Regions from separate parts of the Homo sapiens genome. Here region 1 is linked to region 2. The links come from fine-mapping of genetic effects on gene expression. A gene starts in region 2. The other region holds a variant in brackets. All regions are shown on one strand. Distances are between the middles of the regions. Region 1 overlaps MICU2 (mitochondrial calcium uptake 2). Region 2 holds the start of MICU2 (mitochondrial calcium uptake 2).

Region 1 (10,221 bases), 110 kb before region 2:
TGTGTATTTGGTATGCTTGATGAGGTCCCATAGGTTCCTCAGGCTGTCTTCATTTTTCTTCACTCTTTCTTTCTTTTCCCTAGACTGGGTAATTTTCAATGTCTTATCTTCAATTTTGCCAGTCCTCTCTTTTCCTTGTTCAAACTTGCTGTTGAATCCCTCTATTGCATTTTTCATTTTAGTTATTGCAGATTTTGTTTGGCTCCTTTTTATAATTTCTATTTATACTTTCATTTTGTTCAGACATTGTTTTCTTGATTTCTATTAGTGTTTATTCATGGTTTCCTTTAGAAAACATATTGAACATATTTAAAACAATTGATTTAACATCTTTGACTAATAATTCCAAAGTCTGGTCTTCTTTAGGTATGGTTTCTGTGAAATTCTTTATATCCTGTGAATGGATCATACTTTCCTGTTGCTTTACATGTTTTATAATTTTTTGTTGAGAACTGGTTATTCTGAGCATTATGTTGTAGTAACTCTGGAATCTAATTCTACTCCTTAGGGATTGCTTGTTTTTGCTTGTTGTGGGCTGGACCCATTCCTATTTGTGCCTTTTCCAAACAATGTATCTTCCTTGTTGTGTGTGGCTACTGAGGTTTCTTTTCTGTTATCTCTACAGTTAGCCAGTAACCTGACAAAAATGTCCTTAAATGTCTGACTTTCAAGAAGGAGGGAAGATATCCTGTCTCTTTAAATCTCTTGTGGCTGGGAAGCTGCTTCAGCTTGTGAAGTGGGCATTAAAAAATGGTTGGCCTCCAGCCTGGCCCCTCATCACTTTATCAAAATCAGCAAGCAGCTAGCAGAACACATGACCCCCACTCCTGGAGGATAAGGTCTTTTGTGCTCACACTGGTTCCAGGAAGCTGCCCCAGGAATGTGGGCTGCTTCCCTGACAGTTTCCTGATGCTGGGTGGCAGGCTTTTTGCTGTTGCTGCTACATCACAAAAGGCTGAAGTTCACCAAAATTTACTAGCAACTTCATCAAACTCTCCCTCAAATGTCAGAAATGTTCCAAAATAAGACAATTCCTGCCAGTTCAATAGTTGTTTAGGTGAAGGGACAGATTCCTGGAGCCTCCTGCTCTGCTATCTTCCCTGACATCATTCCCTACATTATGCCTTTTTTTTGAGACAGAGTTTCACTTTGTTGCTCAGGCTGGAGTGCAATCTTGGCTCACTGCAACCTCTGCCTCCTGATTTCAAGCGATTCTCCTGCCTTGGCCTCCTGAGTCACTGGAATTACAGGTGCCTGCCATCACACCTGGCTAATCTCATGTTTTTAGTAGAGGCGGGGTTTCACCATGTTAGCCAGGCTGGTCTTGAATTCCTGACTTCAAGTGATCCTCCCGCCTCGGCCTCCCAAAGTGCTCGGATTACAGGCATGAGCCACCATGCCTGGCCTCTACATTATGCTTTGATTTTTATGATTTAACACCTGGAGGGTAACCTTGTTTCCAAACTTTGGGAGGACATTTCAATTTGTTTCCATTCCCAGAACCTGTTCTGCTTTCTAACCGTATCAGAACCCCTGGCCAGTCTCTCTTGATATTTGCTATCTGTGTCCAAAGCAGAGGCCAAACCAGAGCTGTCTTAAAGCTCCCTTAAGCCATCTACTCTCTCCTGTCCAGTCCTGTAACAGAAAAGCTGGTATGTGAGAACAGCTAAAGCACATATGGGGATTTTTTTTTTTTTTTTTTTTTTTGAGACAGAATCTCCCTCTGTCACTCAGGCTGGAATGTAGTGGCACAATCTCGGCCCACTGTAACCTCTGCCTCCCAGGTTCAAGTGATTCTCCTGTCTCAGCCTTCCGAGTAACTTGGACTACAGGTGCGTGCCAGGATGCCTCGCTAAATTTTTGTATTTTTAGTAGAGTTGGGGTTTTGCCATATTGGCCAGGCTGGTCTTGAACTCCTGACCTCAGGTGATCCGCCTGCCTCAGCCTCCCAAAGTGCTGGGATTAGCGGTGGGCATGAGCCACCGTGCCTGGCCCAGGGTTATTTCTTGTTCCACTTTCCTTTTTGTTAACTAATTCATAGGTCAAACATTTTTTTGAGCGAGTATGTGCTAGCTCTTTGATGGATGCTGGGAGATAGCGTTAAAGGAGTCATGTTGTTGCTATCAATGAGCTCATAGCCAAGGGGAAGAGGCAAATACATAAAAGAATTCCAGTATACTTTAATGAGGCTTGAAAGATATGTGGACAGAAACGTGTGAGGGAACTAACAGCATGTATCCCTAAATGAATTTGAGGGAAAAGCAGGGAGAAAAATGGAAAACTTTGCAGATGAAATGGCACTGGAAGTTAGGCAGGTGGGAGCATCTTCAACAGAAGCACTAGTAAGTGCAAACACTTGGAGAGTGAGAACATGGCCAAGCGGGGTGATGAGAAGTAATTCAGTATTGTTGTAGTGTAAAGTGTGTGGTGGCAAGTGTTAGGATATGAGAAAGATAGATGGGGCAAGATCATGTAGAGTTGAATTTTATTTTTTAAGCGATTTTAGTGTCGTAAGATTATCAGAAGCGTAGTGACATGATCAGATTTATGTTTCAGAAAATAAGTCTGTTGTGAAGGAGGATCTGAAATAAGAAGTTAACAGCATTAATATTTAAAAGCTGCTAAAGGTTTACTCCAGTGCATTTCATACATCATCTCAATCCTTACAAAAAGGCTATGACATCACAACTAAAATCATTCCTTTTTAGATTAAAAATGGGCACAGAGAGCTCAAGTACTTTGCCAAACGGTTATGTGGTGAGTTATATAACTAATGTGGTGAAGCTGAGATTTGAATCCAGGTAGTCTAACAGCAGAGTTTGGATGCTTAATTGCTGTGCCTTACAAGGGGCCGGACAAAGGGCAAGTTAGGATTCCACGGAGATCATCTAAGTAATGAATGATCAGGGCTTGCACTAAGGCAGTGGCAACAGTGTTGTAAGGTGGAGCACATGTCTGGCGATTTTGAGGAAGCAGAATTCACAGGACATGATTGACTATAGAGGAGTAAGGGAGTGAGGATCCGGGATGACTGTCTGGTTCCTAGTTGGTTTCTTGTAGGAGACCCGTTCACTAAGGCAGAAGACATGTGAAGAAATGAGGTTTGGAAAAAGAGGGGGACATAATCAGGTCAGTTTTGGATGTGCTTGAGTTGGACAAACCAAATGGAGAAATCTAGAAAGCAACTGGGCCTGAAGGTGAGGAGAGAACAGAAGCCAGAGGGGTGATGAGATTCCTGAGGGGATGGGCAAGGAGGAGAAGATCCGTGAAGGCAGGGCTCAGATACCCCCTGCAACTGTCTCCCACCTTGAAGGGATAAGCAGAGAAATACAAGCTATCTACCAGAATATCAGACCTAGTGATCATTTATTTAACAAAATGATAGTAAAGAAACAAATGACTGAAGATTCATGCAGTTTAGATTTTTAGGAAGTCCAGCTGCTTTCAAGGTAAATGTCTCCGTACTCCTAGGAGATATTGGCAAATCTAGTTTGCTTATTTGATATATATTTATCCCTATTTTTTTCAAATGGGATCAAGTACTTTTGTAGTAATGACATGACAAACATTATTCGTTTTCAGAAATCTTTTCAGTTATAGTAATTTCCTTTTAGCCTTGAAAAATGGAAAACTATCCTCAACCCTCTAAATACTCTTGTTGTAAGAAAGTCTTCTGATCTCTAACATCACTTTTTTTTTTTTAAATCTTAGTTTTTAATTGTATATATATACTTAAAATGTTTCCTGGTTAGTTTTCAGTCTTCACCTTCTGCAAGTTCCATGACAGCAGGAACCATTTATTTCACCACTGTATGCTTGGGGCCTAGCAGGTTTTTGGCATACTTCTTGATTAACTCATGAACTTTACTAGCTCCTCCCATCCCAAATCTCCTCCTTTCCTCCCTCCCTCCCTCTCTTCTTTCCTTCTGTTCAACAAATATTTGTTGGATGCCTACTGTAAGCCAGGGATTCAGCTTAGACTGGTATATAAAGATGACTAAGGCAGTGCTCCTGCTCTTAATACTTTGGTAGATACAAACTTGGTATGTGGGTAGCACCTTGATGTCTAGAATTTCACCAAGAAGATAGCAAGGGGGCCGGGTGCGTTGGCTCACGCCTGTAATCCCAGCACTTTGGGAGGCCGAGGCAGGTGGACCATGAGGTCAGGAGATCAAGATCATCCTGGCCAACATGGTGAAACCCCGTCTCTACTAAAAAATACAAAAAAATGAGTCGGGCGTGGTGGCGGGTGCCTGTAGTCCCAGCTACTCAGGAGGCTGAGGCAGGAGAATGGCATGAACCCAGGAGGCAGAGCTTGCAGTGAGCCGAGATCGTGCCACTGCACTCCAGCCTGGGCAACAGAGTGAGACTCCGTCTCAAAAAAAAAAAAAAAAAAAAAAAAAGATAGCGAGGGAAAGGCATCGCTGTCAGAAGGAAATGGCATGTGTAACAAGCTTAGGGGTAGGGGTATGTGAAACGCACATGGTGTACATGAGGAAAGGCCAGGAGCTTTATGTCGCTGGAGCACAAAACAGTATTCATGGAATGCTGTGGAAAGTGGGGCAGACAAATCAGTGCCAGGTGAGGCTGAAAAAGTGAAGCCTGTGAAGGCATGAGAAACCATCTTAATTTTTGGATTTTTGTGCCCCTAATCTTGACCCATAAGGGCATCTGGAAAGACAGGTGAGGAGTCAGCATTTTTGTGGTTGACAGAGAAAATGGTGGAGGATTCATTCATTCATACTTATACTTTCTTGCATTGCCTATCTTTTGGTTTTATAAGAGAGAGAAAAAATTATTTTATAAGCAATTATTTATAAAACAATTCATTAGAGCAAATTTGTTTTTGAATCAGGAGCAAAATATTTTTTGTAATAAATGGACAAAAGCTTTTGCCTCTTGTCGATTTCAATCATTAAACTGTGAGGGAGAGTTTTTCAATTTAGTGGATTAACATATTTCAAGGCATTATCCTTCAACAATAAGGGAGAGGTTTCTCTGGCCTCATTAATTTTTGGTGTAAACTCATGAATTCTTATTTCATTCAATAGGCTATAATCTATTACGGACATTAATTATTCTGACCCTCAAACTGAACCAGATTTGACAGGGGCAGCCCCTTCAAGCTGGCTTTGTCCTTCTGACTCTTCACCATTTTGTGAGCCCTTCTTTACTTTTAGGCACAATATATTCTAGGCTTATCTTGGACTTTCCCTGTCACGGCCTTGGGATCAGCCAGTTCTCTAGAGAATGGAACTGGTTTTATATATTTGCAATTTTCTAAATTGTGTGTCTGAGACACAAGTTTTTTATAATTTTTATTTACCAGGTTTTAAAAAATGCCATTTGATATTCAGTTTAATGCCAATTACCTTCTGGCAACATTTGTTTCCCACAACCTAATATATCCCATGAGCCCCTGACCTTGGGGTCAAAATTTCTCCCAGCTACACCAGGTTTTAAGAACTAATGAGGCTGGCAAGGGATGAGAGTATTTACAATTTTTTTTAAAGTAGTTTTAAAAACACATGTAAAATAAAAAGCACCTCAGTATTTTTTGTATCTATGTAAATATTTTATTCTGCTTCCAGATAGAACATTGAAGTTTACATGTTATTTTAAAGACAATAAACAGCTAAGCTACTGACATAAAATATGCAATAAATTTATGAGATATAAGGTACAGATGAGAAAAATCTGAAATAAGTTTTTAACTTCATTTAGCCTATTAGGAACATGAAGATGTCTGGAATTGATGCTGGCCTTGGTCTCAAGTACTTTTTCCCATATGTATTTGTTTTATCCTTCCAGAAAGCATATCATATTAGAGTGTCTAAGAAATCAGTGAATCACTAAGTTTTCCATCTTACCGAAGTACAAAACATTATTTCAAATCTAGGCCTTCTGACAGAATCCAATATCTATTTTTATACTTACTTTTCTTTCTACTAAGTTCTTTAATAAAATTATGAATCAGAAAGCAAGTACAAGACATGCTTATTTCACACAGAATATCAATGAAGACTTAAGAAGATAAATAGCAAGTACTTCTAAAAAATCACAAATTTTGACATTTGGAACAATATAATTGCCATACTATTATATCTTTTATTAAAAAAGACCTTTTCCAGCTTGTTTCCAGACTTCTTTTACTCCTTTAATGCTTTCTTTCTTCACACACTTCCAGTATTCTTGTATACTCTGATGTTGTGGTACCTGTTAACCGAAAGTAAAAATCAAGGGGTCATTGTCTTCAAGGTTAAACATGATTTCATATATACTTTACGTTACTGTTTATTTCCTTCCCACACTCCTCCAAAAATAGTTGAGGGTGAATTATGTTGTAAAAGATGATCACAACAGAACTGAAAATGGGGGTAAAAGACAAAAAGTGAATGTAACTA[T/C]GCTTAAGGTTACTAGGGAGTGGAACCAGACTGAGCACACATTAATGGAGTTTCTTCTCTAAGAGGGTAATGAAGACTTTGGGCCATCTCTTCTTTCACATACTGGCTTTAAAATTTAATTACTTTATAATGTTTTCCTTTTATAATGTTTTATAATCTTTCCCTTTTTTTCTGGTGAACTTTGTTTAGCTATGTAGAATACAATTATAAGCCTAAAGCTTTGATTTAACATTGGCTAAAATTAAAAAAAAAAAAGGCCACAAAGTATTTGATGAAAAGCTTCAAGAAATAATCTAATTCATGGACGTGTTTTGTTAGCTAAAAATACATGTGGATTACTACTACTCTCAACAAAATGAAAAGGTAAAGGTTAGGAAATATTTGGATCCGGGGGACCACAGGAGCATAGCACTGATGAAAATTAGCCAAGTGGAAGCAAAATTCTACTCCAGATTATATATGTTCTTTTTCTTATGACTGATTTACAGCTTTTCTTTTTAATGTCTTCTGAGAAAGGGCAAGGAGACTCCCAGGTACACTCAATTGTGAACTGAAAAGACTGGCTTAATTTCCCGGAATATATTTATGGGTGTTGGATAACTGCAAAGTTTATAAAATATTAATATGTTTGCTAATGAAAATAATATTTATTTTTCCCTAAGTTATGTTTGTTGCAGGAAATGGAATTGCTTTTCTAAGTTGTAAATAGCTTTATTTTCATGAATAGTACCATATTCTCTCTCTCTCTCCTTCCTTTTTTCTTGCCTACCTACCAACCATGTAGATTCTCTTTGGACCCTAGTCTTCCCCTGGCAGACTTCTTTTCTGAGAGTGCTTCTAGCACATTCTAATCTGAACAAAAATCTGAATTTGATTTGTCCCACAAGTATAGACTCATATGTGACTTTGAGTGAATAATGCTAATAGTGAAATTTACTTCATAATCTCAGCCACTATACTAAGTATTTTACATCAAATTCTAACAATAATGCTTTCTGGTAGATTAGTTTCCTCATGGTATGGGTCAAGAATCTGAGACTAAAAAAAATTAAGTGGCTTTGCAAGATTAAGCAGTTAATAAACAGTAGAGGTGGGATTTGAATTTACATATATCTAATTACATGTAGTTAGTCAAATCCTAGGCTATGATTTTTTTTCCCTTTTTTTGTAGAAACAGAGTCTCATGATGTTATCCACGCTGGTCTCAAACTCCTGGCCTCAAGTGATCCACCCGGCTCGGCCTCCCACAATGTGCTGGGATTACAGATGTGAGCCACCATGTCCAGCTAGGCTACATTTCTGAATAGTAATTTCTTTTTTAAAAAATTATTTTTTTTTGGAGACAAGGGCTTGCTCTGTTGCACAGTCTAGAGTGCAGTGGTGCGATCGTAGCTCACAGTCACTTTAAATAGTGATTTCTTATTAGATTCACATTATTTTTTAAAAAGCAAAGATGTTTAATCTCATATATAAAATATATTTCTGTATTTCAATTACAGCTTATAGTCTTTTTATAAGTGATGAAAACTCCATTTAAAGACTGTACAATTGCCCAAATTCTAGGTTTAATATCAGTTAATGACAATGTAAACATGTATTATATAAAAAAAATCTGTTACCCATAAACCTCGATGCATTCTGTTTTTTAACACCCCAAGAAACTCTTCATGACTAAGACATTCATCACCATCCAAATCAAAGATCTTAAAGACAGTGTCCAAAATATTGTTTGAGAGTTCTTGTCCTGTTGCTACTTTCACAGCTCTCTTAAACTCCGCTAAAAAACAAACATAAAACAACTTATCAACTATGTGAAATAGTCTAAGTGAAATTAATCTAAATTTTCATTATTTGAGAAGTAAAAGCAAATCCAAATTTTTATTATTTGGGAAGTAAAACAAAAACAAAAATACCCATGAAGAAAATATTCAAACCATAAGCCGACGAATGTCATGAGAGTCACTGCAAGACAAATGAGCTATTGTAATTTAATCAATGCTCTAAACATATATTTGAGATGAATCTTGCTCGTCGCCCAGGCTGGAGTGCAATGGCACGATCTTGACTCACTACAACCTCCGTCTCCCGGGTTCAAGCGATTCTCTTGCCTCGGCCTCCTGAATAGCTGGGATTACAGGCGCCTGCCACCACGCCCAGCTAGTTTTTGTATTTTTAGTAGAGATGGGGTTTCACCATGTTGGCCAGGCTGGTCTTGAACTCCTGACTTTGTGATCCGCCCACCTTGGACTCCCAAAGTGCTGGGATTACAGGCATGAGCCACCATGCCCGGCCTTCTTCCTTCTTTTTAGGAGAATGAGAAAATAAAAGTATAGAAAGTAACCATTAAACTGGAGTACTGGTATTCTAAATCTAGAATAACCACACTGAATTAAAAGGTCAATCAACTATTTTTACTTATAATTTGTTCCTTGATTGGTAGCATTTAGTTGAAGAATATAGTAAAACTGTTTATAGATGATAAAAATTAAATGGTTTTTCATATAACTTACCTAGTCTGACAGGACGATGAGCTAAACTGAACATCTGCATGGCAATAGCAAAGTCTTCCAAGTGGGTTGTAAAATGGCAAAATGACTTGAATTCATCCAAACTAATGCTCTAATAAAGTAAGAGTTTTTATTACAATTTTGTAAGTACATTAAATAATCTTATAAATGTTAACTATGAACTTTCTTTTCTACCGTAGAGACTAGTATCATTCTAAGAGGAAGAGACAACAGAGCTTTCTCTGTCCCTTTCTCTCTGTGTGCACACAGAAATGGCCACACAAAGGGCACAGTGAGAAGGTGCTGTGTGCAGGCTGGGCAAGAGGCCTCACCAGAAACTGGCCCTGCTGGTGCCTTGATCTTGGACTCCTGGCCTCCAGAACTGTGAGAAATAAATTTATTGTTTAAGCTGCCCAGCCTGTGGTGTTTTGAGGCGGCAGCTTGAAGAGACTAACATACTCTGTTAAGTGGTCCACTTCTGCTAAGTTTTATTAGTGGACATAGCACTGAGTAAGAGCACAGAGTTTTGGAGTTAGATGGACTTTTAATGCTGAAATTCCGGTTCTGCCCTTTATAACGTGTATGACCTTAGCCTCTCTAAGTCTTAGGTAAGTAACGCTTCAGGGGTTATGTAGTTTGCCCAAAGTCTACTAACTGGAACAATCAGGATCTGAACCTTGGTCCATCTGACTTCAAAATCTGAGCACTTACAAATAAAACAAATGGTGCGGGCGCGGTGACTGACGCCTGTAATCCCAGCACTTTGGGAGGCGGAGGCGGGCGGATCACGAGGTCGGAAGATGGAGACCATCCTAGCTAACACCATGAAATCCCTTCTCTACTAAAAACACAAAAACAAAAAAATTAGCCGGGCGTGGTGGCAGGCGCCTGTAGTCCCAGCTACTTGGGAGGCTGAGGCAGGAGAATGGTGTGAACCCAGGAGGCAGAGCTTGCAGTGAGCCGAGATCACGCCACAGCACTCCAGCCTGGGCGACAGAGCGAGACTCTGTCTCAAAAAATACATAACAAACAAACAAACAAACGGGCTGGGTGCTGTGGCTCATGTCTAATCCTAGCACTTTGGGAGGCCAAGGCAGGCAGATCACCTGAGGTCAGCAGTTCAAGACCAGTCTGGTCAACATGGTGAAAAAGAAAAAAAAAAAAAAATTAGCTGGGTGTGGTGGTGCACACCTGTAGTCCCAGCTATTTGGAAGGCTGAGGCAGGAGAATTGTTTAAACCCGTGAGGCGGAGGCTACAGTGAGCCAAGATCGCGCCACTGCACTCCAGCCTGGGTGATGGAGTGAGACTC
Region 2 (10,457 bases):
GGTTTAAAAAGTGTTTTCATTTTGAAGAAGTGATACTCTGAGATACTTACAACAACTCTAATATAGTACGAAAATATCTGAGATTTCTGTTGATGACAAAGGCAGTTACTGTAATACCACTATAGCTTGTTGCCTACATTCATTAAATGAAGAAAACATTAAACAATTTATGAAAACAATGAAACAAAATTTTTGTCGATGAAATTTTGTCAATGAAAACAAAAATGTAATCTTTTTTCTAAGTTCATGGATCCCCTAAATTCTATGCATGGACATATGGGGGTCCATGAGGGTTAAGAAATCCTGCAATGGCTTCCTGCTGTCCTCAAGATAAAAATTCCTGTCACATGGCTTATGGGACACTTAATGATCTGATTCCCAGCCATTGCTCACACCCAATTTTGAACCCCATCTTTTGCAGCTCTTACTCTGCTGAGTCCAACTCTTACTTCCAGATCTCTGTAAAGCTATCTCCTTTGCCTAGAAAACTCTTCCCCTTCTCTTTGCCTAGCAAACTTGCAGTCACCCTCCAGGTGTCAACCTACACATAATTCCTTCAGGAAACCAAGACTTTGTGAAATACTCTTCCACTATGCTTCCACAGCACCCAGTATTTAACCCTACCACAGCATTTATCACATTGTATTAAAACTGCCGTTCCCCATTAAACTGTAAGCACATAAACTGTGTCTCTAATCCCTGCTCCTGGCATATTGTCTAGCACAGAGTAAGATTTCAAAACTTGTGAAAGGAAGAAAGTAAAGAAAAAAGGAAGGTTCCAATTTATCTACTGTTTCATGACATGAAACTCTACCCTTAATTCCCGACTGACCCTCACAAATGCAAGCTGTTGGTCACAATGGGAACTAGAAAAGTGTAGGACTCCATTAATATAAATTTATATTTTTATTGGAAAAAAGCACTTAGTGTAATGACTGAAAATGAAGGACATATTCACTATTATTATTATTATTATTTTGAGACGGAGTCTTGCTCTGTCGCCCAGGCTGGACTGCAGTGGCAGGATCTCGGCTCCCTGCAAGCTCCGCCTCCCAGATTCACGCCATTCTCCTGCCTCAGGCCCCCGAGTGGCTGGGACTACAGGCGCCCGCCACCACGCCCAGCTAATTTTTTGTATTTTTAGTAGAGACGGGGTTTCACTGTGTTAGCCAGGATGGTCTCGATCTCCTGACCTCGTGATCCGCCCATCTCGGCCTCCCAAAGTGCTGGGATTACAGGCGTGAGCCACCAGGCCCGGCCGGACATATTCACTATTATTATAGGGCCGCGTCAGGAAGAGTTTACCAACTTGGAATACCAATGTAACTATATTAATGCATAAAATTCTATTGCAATGAAAGATTCATCACAAGCCAAAATTCTGGTATATATCTAGCTCAACTATGCACACCTGTCCCTAAAGTAGTGGTAGTAGGCCCACTTCTTAGGGAAATGTATCAAAATCACTGAGGCGAAGGCAAAGTTTTCAACCTATAGGTCCTCTCAATCCTTCCTGTATTCAGCCACTGATGCTGAAAGGAATGTCCACCGTGGTGGCAAAAGGATGAGAACCACTGTCTCGGTCCAATAGCAGATCAGGCAAATGCTATGCCAACAGACCTTATAAAACGATTGATAATAAAATGGTTTCTGTATTACTTTAGCTAAGATTAAACTTACAAAGCTGCAGGGAAGGAGAGCTGAGAGTTGGGAAGAGAATCCAAAATAACTACACTAGTGTGAAGCTTTTAGAATCAAGTCAGGGATTTCAAAGGAGAAAGATTAGAAGTGGGCCAGAAAAAAAAAAAACAATTAGATGGATAAGTGAAATCAAGAGTCTACAAATTGCAGCTGGCGGGTGAGCGGTATTTAAGTCTTGTTCTAGGGATAGTGAGTGAATCACTTTAGTGGGAAGGTGCCTGAGTAGTGTCAGGTCAGAGTGTGACTATAAAAGGCTCTGAAAGACAAAGTTTTAAAATGTGCATTTTGGCCGGGCGCTGTGGCTCACGCCAGTAATCCCAGCACTCTGGGAGGCCAAGGCAGGCGGATCACGAGGTCAGGAGATCGAGACCATCCTGGCCAACATGGTGAAACCCCGGCTCTACTAACAATACAAAAAAAAATTAGCTGGACGTGGTGGCGTATGCCTGTAATCCTAGCTACTTGGGAGGCTGAGGTAGGAGAATTACTTGAACCGGGGAGTTAAGAGGTTGTAGTGAGCCGGGATCACGCCACTGCACTCCAGCCTGGGTGACAGAGACTCCATCTCAACAACAAAAAAAAAGTGCATTTTACTCTTGGCAAAATGAGACACTGAAGAAGGGTTTCTGAAGAAGGGTACACTGTGTGGTTAAAGTGATACTCCGGAGAAGATTAACCTAAGGGTCTTAAAAACAGGATGAATCGGCCGGGCGCAGTGGCTCACGCCTGTAATTCCAGCACTTAGGGAGGCCAAGGCGGGCGGATCACGAGGTCAGGAGATCGAGACCATCCTGGCTAATACGGTGAAACCCCGTCTCTACTAAAAACACAAAAAATTAGCCGGGCGCGATGGCGGGCGCCTGTAGTCCCAGCTACTCGGGAGGCTGAGGCAGGAGAATGGCGTGAACCCGGGAGGCGGAGCTTGCAGTAAGCCGAGATAGCGCCACTGCAGTCCGGCCTGGGCGACAGAGCGAGACTCCTCTCAAAAAAAACAAAAACAAAAACAAAAAACAAACAAAAAAACCAGGATGAATCTAGGGGAGAGAAACTAATGATGAATACACTGAACTCCTTGGCACAAGATTCACAAAAATGCTATAAAAACACTAGATAATAGATCTTTCCATTATATATGTTTACAATATAATTATAATGTATGTTAATACAAATAAGGAATATCAGTTGCCAATACTTAATTTTAACTCACAAGGCCTTCTTTCCTCTCTTTTTTGTTGTATCTGAATGTTCCTTGAGTTTTTCGCTAGAAAGGCATAATGTAAATCTAAAAAAGAAAATAATAAACTACTACTTTCAATTTTCAAAAAAGCTCATATGTAAAAACTTACTAAGTCTACAAAAATTTTAAAGCACTACTCATTCAAATTTTCAAATGCGTTACAACATCATTTATCCTGAAATAGGGAACTTGAATCTTTTTTTTTTTTTTTTGAGACGGAGTTTCGCTCTTGTAGCTCAGGCTGGAGTGCAATGGCTCGATCTTGGCTCACTGCAACCTCCGCCTCCCGGATTCAAGCGGTTCTCCTACTTCAGCCTCCCGCCACCACACCCAGCTAATTGTTTATATTTTTTAGTAGAGACCGGGGGGGCGGGGCTGGGGTGGGGAGCGGCTTCACCATGTTGGCCAGGCTGGTCTCGAACTCCTGACCTCAGGAGATCCACCCGCCTCGGCCTCCCAAAGCCCTGGGATTAAAGGCGTGTGCCACCGCGCCCGGCGGACTCTTGTCTTTAATAGATGGAGGTTTTAGGAGCAATTTTTGCTTAGAACTTATGGTCCACTAAGATATTAAGGTTTATAATCATGCAATAATGTTCCTTAAAGTTGATAATAAAATCTGGAAATCAACTGGTTAATTTTTGTGGCTGACACATTCGTGACTTAAAAAAGCAATCGACAGAACTTCATCATGCTATACAAAGAAAAGATCGTAAAACTTAGTTGCAAAGCTTAACAAAGGTATATCCCACAGGGGTAACTGGACGCAAACCACCTGCGGATGTGAATGCCACTTCACTGACCAGAGAGGTAGCAAGAGGCGAGGCGCAGTGAGATTCTGAATTAGGAGCCTCGAATTAAGACACGCCCACACTCATCACCACTAAATTAGTGCGGCCAGTTTTGTGGGCCGTGGTGTTCAGCGTCCGCGGGGTTCTCCCAAGGGAGGCAGAATCTCCGGTCACCAGCCTCGAAGGCCCTCGGGGACTCAGGCCGGGGGCCGGTCCAGGAAGGAGCGAGTCCCACCAGTCGCAGGGCGCTCCGATCCGCAGCGGCACCTCCACCCACGGCTCCGGGAGAGCCGCCCAGAGCCAAACCACTCCCCGCCTAAGGGCGTCAGGGGAGGGAGGAGCTTGACTGGGGCTAGCAGAAGGAGTTAGTCCTGTACCTGTGCGGAGACTGTAAAACTGCCATCCCGCGCCGCAACACTGACGCGGCTGTGGTGCCAGGCCGCTCCTGCTCCTGCCAGGGCCGCGCCGGCCACTGCCGCTGCCAAGGGGCCGGGACTCCGCACAGCCTGTCGGCTGACAGCGAGCCCCCGTCGCAGTTTTCCGCCCCAGGCCGCCACCCGCGCGCAGCTACCCGCAGCCGCCGCCATCTTTGCGGAAGCGCAGCTAGGCGGCGCTTCTCTCCCGGCGCCGCCGCCTACCGCTTGGGAACTCTCGCGACATCCGACAGGCTTCCGCCCCGCCTACCGGGCCTGCGCCGTGGGTGCGGTTGCTGAGGCGACGCTCGCAGCCGCAAGAGGTGGCCTTCGGTTCCGGGGCTGCCTTCTAAGGCTGTGGGGATGGGATGACAGGAAGAGTATCAAGACAGTATAATATGACTTCCTAGTCCAAAACAAGATAGTGCCCTCGGTTGTGTGGGCAGGTTTCTCCTTTTCATTTTTTCACCTTGTAAAACTGTGAAACGTTTTTTGAAATAGTCTCTTCTGCATCTGTGTTGTTCATGTCTTCCTATGCTTATAGTCTTGACTGTTCTTTCATTTCTGCTAAAACAACTCTCAGACAAGGCATTCTGTTTATTTCAGTCCCTCACTATTTGCTTATAATGAATTTAAATTCAGTTTCAACAAAAGGTTTGATAGTAGCTCTTATCCTACCTAGAACTAAAAGTCAGAGACAGCAGCACACCAGCCCCATGTCTCTATCATCAGGGACCCAGAGGTTTTCCCCAGTGCAGATTTAGAACGATACCTCCAGTCCTGGCTGTTGCATTGGTGATAAGTGATGTAGCTGAGGCAGACTACTTGGTTTTATTTAACAGCCTCCAATCCTCCATTCTTTGGTCTTCACTTTTCCTGAGTAACTCTTTTTAATAAACTCTTTGTTCAGCCTCTGAAATGTCCCCAGCTATTAGAAGCTTTAGTTGGGCATGCAGTAACGGAGCCAACATCAAAGGGGCCAAGACTCCTAATCACATAATCACTGCTGTCTTGAAGTTTTGCACAAAACAAAACTTCAAGAAACAAAAACAAAAACCTGTCACACGAAATCTAATTTGATCATTCAGTGGAAGTTCCGTGGATCCCTTTGTTATTATCTGCCCTTAATCCTTGCTCCCTTTCTCTTAGCCCGCTTGTCTAAATTAATCTGCAGTCAGAGGTTCCTCACTTTTCCGTCAGCTTCTGGACTTACTTTTCAGTGTGCCTTCCCAGGTAGGAAGTAGAGAGATGAGCCTCACTTCACCGACTTGTGAGCCAGACCTCAAGGTTTGAATCTTAGCTCTACCAGGATGATCACTGTGGTTTGGGGCAAATTATTTAATCTCTCTGAGTCTCCATTTTCTCATTTGTAAATAACTCACGATTTGGTAGATGATCACTGCTATTTGGGGTAAGGTATTTAATCTCTTTGAGTCTCAATTTTTTCATCTGTGAACAACCCTCTTACAGTTTGGGGTGGGGAAGCTAAATGAGATATTTTATATAAAGTGACTAGCCAAATGCCTGGCACATGGTAGGCTCATGACAGATGTGCGTTTACTGTGGTCAAGGTTTGGTTTACTTCTGCCCTGTGAACACAAATGAGCTTGACTGAATGTCCATGATTCCAGATCACTAGCCCATCTTAACCTGAGATTTTCCTGCTTTTTTGTATCTAGCCTGACTTTGTCAACCTCTGGACTGTTTTTCACCTCTGCTAACTCTGGTAGCTTTGGCACATGTCCTGCTTTTCTGGACTATTGACATCTAGCTTGTTTCCTGGTGATAATAGGACTTCCAGGATATTTTGGACACCCTGGATGTCTTACCTTGTAGTTTATTCTTGATTTCCAGAAACCACAGTCTTTACGTGTATACTTCTAACTGCCTCACACAGTTCCTCTAGGTATTTAATGAAACCTGGCATCTATTACTCAGTATTGCCTTAAGCCCAAGATAAGTTTAGATTCCCATTAAAACATGTAGCATATTTAAGAACATTGTCTTTCTCCCACAATTTGACATCCTTGTGGGTGAGATGTCTTCCTTTTCCCTGTTTCTCTAGCACCTAGCACAATGCCCAGCACGTAATAGACATTCAATGAGTGAGTAAATAAGTGAATAAATAAATGGCACAAATGAAACTCAGGGGTTCATATTTCTATGCTTTGGCCATCCAAAATACAGAAGTATATTATTCCTTTGGGGTACTTTATTTTCAAAACAAAAGCTTCTTTTTATTTTGCCAAAAATCTTTGAACCCACTTGGAAAACAGTGTAATTAGTTATTTTTTAAATTTTCATTATGTGCCCAGGCATCTAGAACTCTCACTTATAATTTAATGTATTCAAACTTTTCTTATGCAGAGGAAACAAATTCTTATAATAGAACCAATCTCTAGTCGAATAACCATTCTAAGTATGAAATCTTCCTTGGCAGCTGCTGACATTTGTCTAAGCACATTGACTATATTGGTCTTTTTGGGCTCCAGCTTTGTTCATTTCTTCATCATCAGCTGTAAAGTCCTGGGCTGGGATGTATTTTCAACCATGCAGTTTATAAACCAACCCCCAAATAAGAAGCTGCTTCTAAAGCTGTACATTGTATGCTGTTTTAAATAACTGGACGAAAACAGGATGGAAATACTTATTGTTTCAAAGTATTCTTAATTCACTTACTCCTGCTCTTTTTTTCTGAAGAAGAACGAAAGTGATATGTCAGAAAAACTGCTCTTAAGGAGCTTTATTTTCACTGGAGAGGCTAGGCTTGAATTTCAAAACAATTGTCTCTGACTTTTATACTGTACAGAGAAGCAAGGGTGAGGTGGGCTGGCACAGGCAGAAAAGCATCTAGGGAAGACAGAAGACTTGATCTGGAACTTGCTGGGGTCTGAGGCAGGGTGAGAGCCTGGGGGAGGGTGCATACAGTGTGTGCTGACAGGCTTGGTGCAGAAGGGCTAGCTGGGGACTGGCTTGGAGTGTCCTGAGGGCCAGGCAGGGGCCACACAATGATCTCCAGTCTGTGGAACAGTTGTCAGCCCCCTTGACCCTCTGCACATTTGTCACTGGCGTATTCATGCTTCCCTTTCAGCGTCCCCACCCGCCTTGAGGCTGAGCTCCTCTTCTGAATCTCAGATGCTCCACCAGTGTATTTCTTCTGCTTGCCCGGACTTTATCCTGGCCTTTCTTAGCCGCTATCCACACGCTTCTTCAAATTATTGTCCTTTTTACTGACAATCAAAACTTCGATTCCCTCTGGGTTACTGGTCTTGAACAAAAGAGGTCAACTAGTTTTTTTACTGAAGATATCTACTCCTTTGTATTTCCATTTTAGAAGAAATTATTAACTCAAACACATCTTTGATCTTAGCATGTGTGGGGAGAAAAACAAAAATTGCTATTGGATTCTGAAAGATTGTTTACTGCTCTATTCCAGAATAATGTGCACTGAGACAGATTATCTTAGGTGGAGGAGAAAAAATATGGGAGATCTCAAAAGATTAGTTAAAGAGGTTGGACTCCTATAGGAATGAAGTAAAAAGCATATGCATGGATATTATAAAGAACCATTGCTTGGAATAGTCAGAGGTTGAACTATATTTATGGTGGATAATTGTGTAGCAGAGGGTATGAATCACTCTCAGAGGCCCTAAATGAGTCAAAAGAACTGCTAATTATGTCTTTTTGTGCAGTTTGGGGCCATGAGTAAAAATATCTGGGTATCGTGATTGATACCAGCATGTGTAGAAATAGGTTAAAGTGAAATCTTACTGACAGTGAGAAAGCAGTGCCCAGAGGAGCGTTTTGTATGTCTTTCAGATCCTCGTCTGCATCTTATTACCTTCCCTTCCTCGCAGTGCAGCTCCCATTACCTTGCCCTGTGATTATTGTGACCATCTCTTAACATGTGCCTTTGCTTCGTCTTTCTCTTCTCTGAAGCATCCCACAGATCTATGTTAGATCAATCTTCCTAAAACATTTCTTTCACCATACATCCATTAGCTCTGTGATTTACCCTTCCTAAGCCTCTGTCTCCCAGTTGGAAAATGAGGAGATGGGTTTTGGTTTATTTTTACACTTCTAAAATTCTTTTTGTATGCCACTCCGAAGTGTCTTTTTTTTCTGCTCAGTTGACAAACTGTATCGAATGTGAAATATGTGCCAGGCATGGGACCACACGTTGGAGACAACAAGCACAAATAGGATAGAGCTTCCTGGGCACGGGCTGTGGTCTCACACATTGGCTTATGCCCTCTATGCTGAAAACTTTTAAAAGTATGTAACCTGCCATTTATGTATGCTTATTTCTTAAATCTACACATTTACAACTAAATGTTAAAAGCCACATAGTAAGAATGTAAATGGTGATGTAAAGATGAATTAGTATTTACAAAATAAAATTGTATTTTTATTATTAAAGATGCAATGAATGTTTTATTCTAAAACTGTTAGTATTTTAGTGAGATCTATGTGATTAAATTGGCTTCATTAACTTGGAAAATGCTGATTTAGGTTTTATGAGATAGAAGGTCTGGTATTATGTTGAGTTAATTTATACATTAGTTTTTGATGACTGTCATAGCTCAAAAAGGTACCTCACAAAAATATATTAATCTGAATGGAGGGAGTGACTGTACTATTAGTTGAGGTAATGAAACCATTATACTTGTCTTTTTTTAGCTTTTTCTTATGAAAAATTCAAATATATATAAAATTAGACTAGAATGATGAGTAGAGCTGGACTTCCACAATTACAAACTCATGGCCAGTCTTATTTCATCTCCACCTTCTCCTTTTCCCTCAGTTAGATTATGTTGGCATAGCCCCCAGGCTCATATAATTTTATTCTACATATTTTATTATGTATTTTTATTTTTATTTTTTATTTTGTGTGTATGTGTGCGTGTGTGTGTTTGAGACAGAGTCTCACTGTGTCATCCAGGCTGGAGTGTAGTGGCGCGATCTCAGCTCACTGCAACCTCTGCTTCAGAGGTTCAAGCAATTCTCGTGCATCAGCCTCCCGAGTAGCTGTGATTACAGGCGTGTGCCACCTTGCCTGGTTAAATTTTGTATTTTTTGTAGAGATGAGGTTTCACCATGTTGATCAGGCTGGTCTCAAACTCCTGGCCTCAAGTGATCCTCCCTCTTCGTCCTCCCAAAGTGCTGGGATTACAGACATGAGTCACTGTGGCCAGCTCATTATGGATTTTTAAAAGATGAGTGCTCATAAAAAGAAAACCCACACACCAATATTTTGTTTTTGTATTTCTTAATAATGCTTATAATCCAATGGAAACAAACATTTACTGAAGAAAAAAAGTTGTGTAAATTGCTGAAAATGCTAGGAGGCTGGGGGGACACTAACAGAAAGAAGATTAAAAAGTCTGTTGTATGAGTGTTGTGTAACACTTCCACATCTCAGGGAGAGGGATCTGTGTTCTCATAAAGTACACTTACGAAAATTAGTGACAGCACAACATTTGAGGTTGCAAAAAAATATTTTTTCTGGAAACACGTTTATGGAACAGATTGTGTATGTCAGAAGAATTTGATTGGTATTTTAAAATCCGTTATAATATCTCCAAAGTTCGGTGTAGCCCACCAAAGGAGACAATTCACACTTTCTTTCCTTTGCTCCTTTTCAGCTGTAAAATGTACATCTCAAGCACATCAAAGATGGTGACAGAGAAGAGTTAAGAAAGACAGCACATCCAGAGGAGCAAGGGACAAGATCTAAATAATTTCATGAAATGTTCCTTGATCCCAAGATTTCTGCAGAAATGTTCAAGTCTGTGATGTGTATTCTTGTGCATTGAGACATCCAGAATTTAATAGCCTGTTCTTAACTATGCAGAAGACCAAGCCACTAAGTAAATGCAAATGCTTTGACATTTTTATTGTTTCTTAAAAACCCAAATGAAAATTTCAATTTCATCTTTCATTCCTTTTCCCCAAAGCCAGTCTGCTGGTTAGCTGTCTTTAGTCTACAGCACGGTGTGAACACGTGGTGTCGGCACCACCACCCAGAGGCCATCAGCAGGGCAGGAGGCTGGGCATCTGGCAGCAGGATCTGGCTTTTCTCCAGAGCTTCTTTCTCCAATTGACTGGGTTGCCCTGAGTTTCTTTTGCACTTCCGAGACTTGGATACACTGAGATGGTCACCATTCAGTGGCTCTCATAGACAATGACCTTATGGTCTTGTCTCCAGCTAGAGACAGTGGAGACCTGGCAAGGAGGGTGGAGCCAGGTATGACAGGTAACTCCCAGGTGGGCAGGCCTGCGCCTTGCACACAAGCAGACTGGTGGCCGGGAGTGTTG

Evidence for each region.
Region 1: its variant is fine-mapped to the expression of MICU2 in whole blood (TOPMed, PIP 0.98).

What each region holds. Positions count from the first base shown.
Region 1 is chr13:21,487,138-21,497,358 of GRCh38, forward strand. MICU2 (mitochondrial calcium uptake 2) reads right to left here. Exons shown (of 12, transcript NM_152726.3): 10 at 8,915-9,023; 11 at 8,024-8,181; 12 at 5,554-6,216. The coding sequence ends at 6,112. Among named protein-coding and RNA genes, the nearest start is that of ZDHHC20, 33 kb to the left of the region's middle. The variant T/C (reference allele first, on the strand shown) is at 6,405.
Region 2 is chr13:21,599,836-21,610,292 of GRCh38, forward strand. It overlaps MICU2 (mitochondrial calcium uptake 2), which reads right to left and starts at 4,335. Exons shown (of 12, transcript NM_152726.3): 1 at 4,104-4,335. The coding sequence starts at 4,313. RefSeq lists enhancers at 3,429-4,048, 4,049-4,667, 4,449-4,518 and a silencer at 4,069-4,278.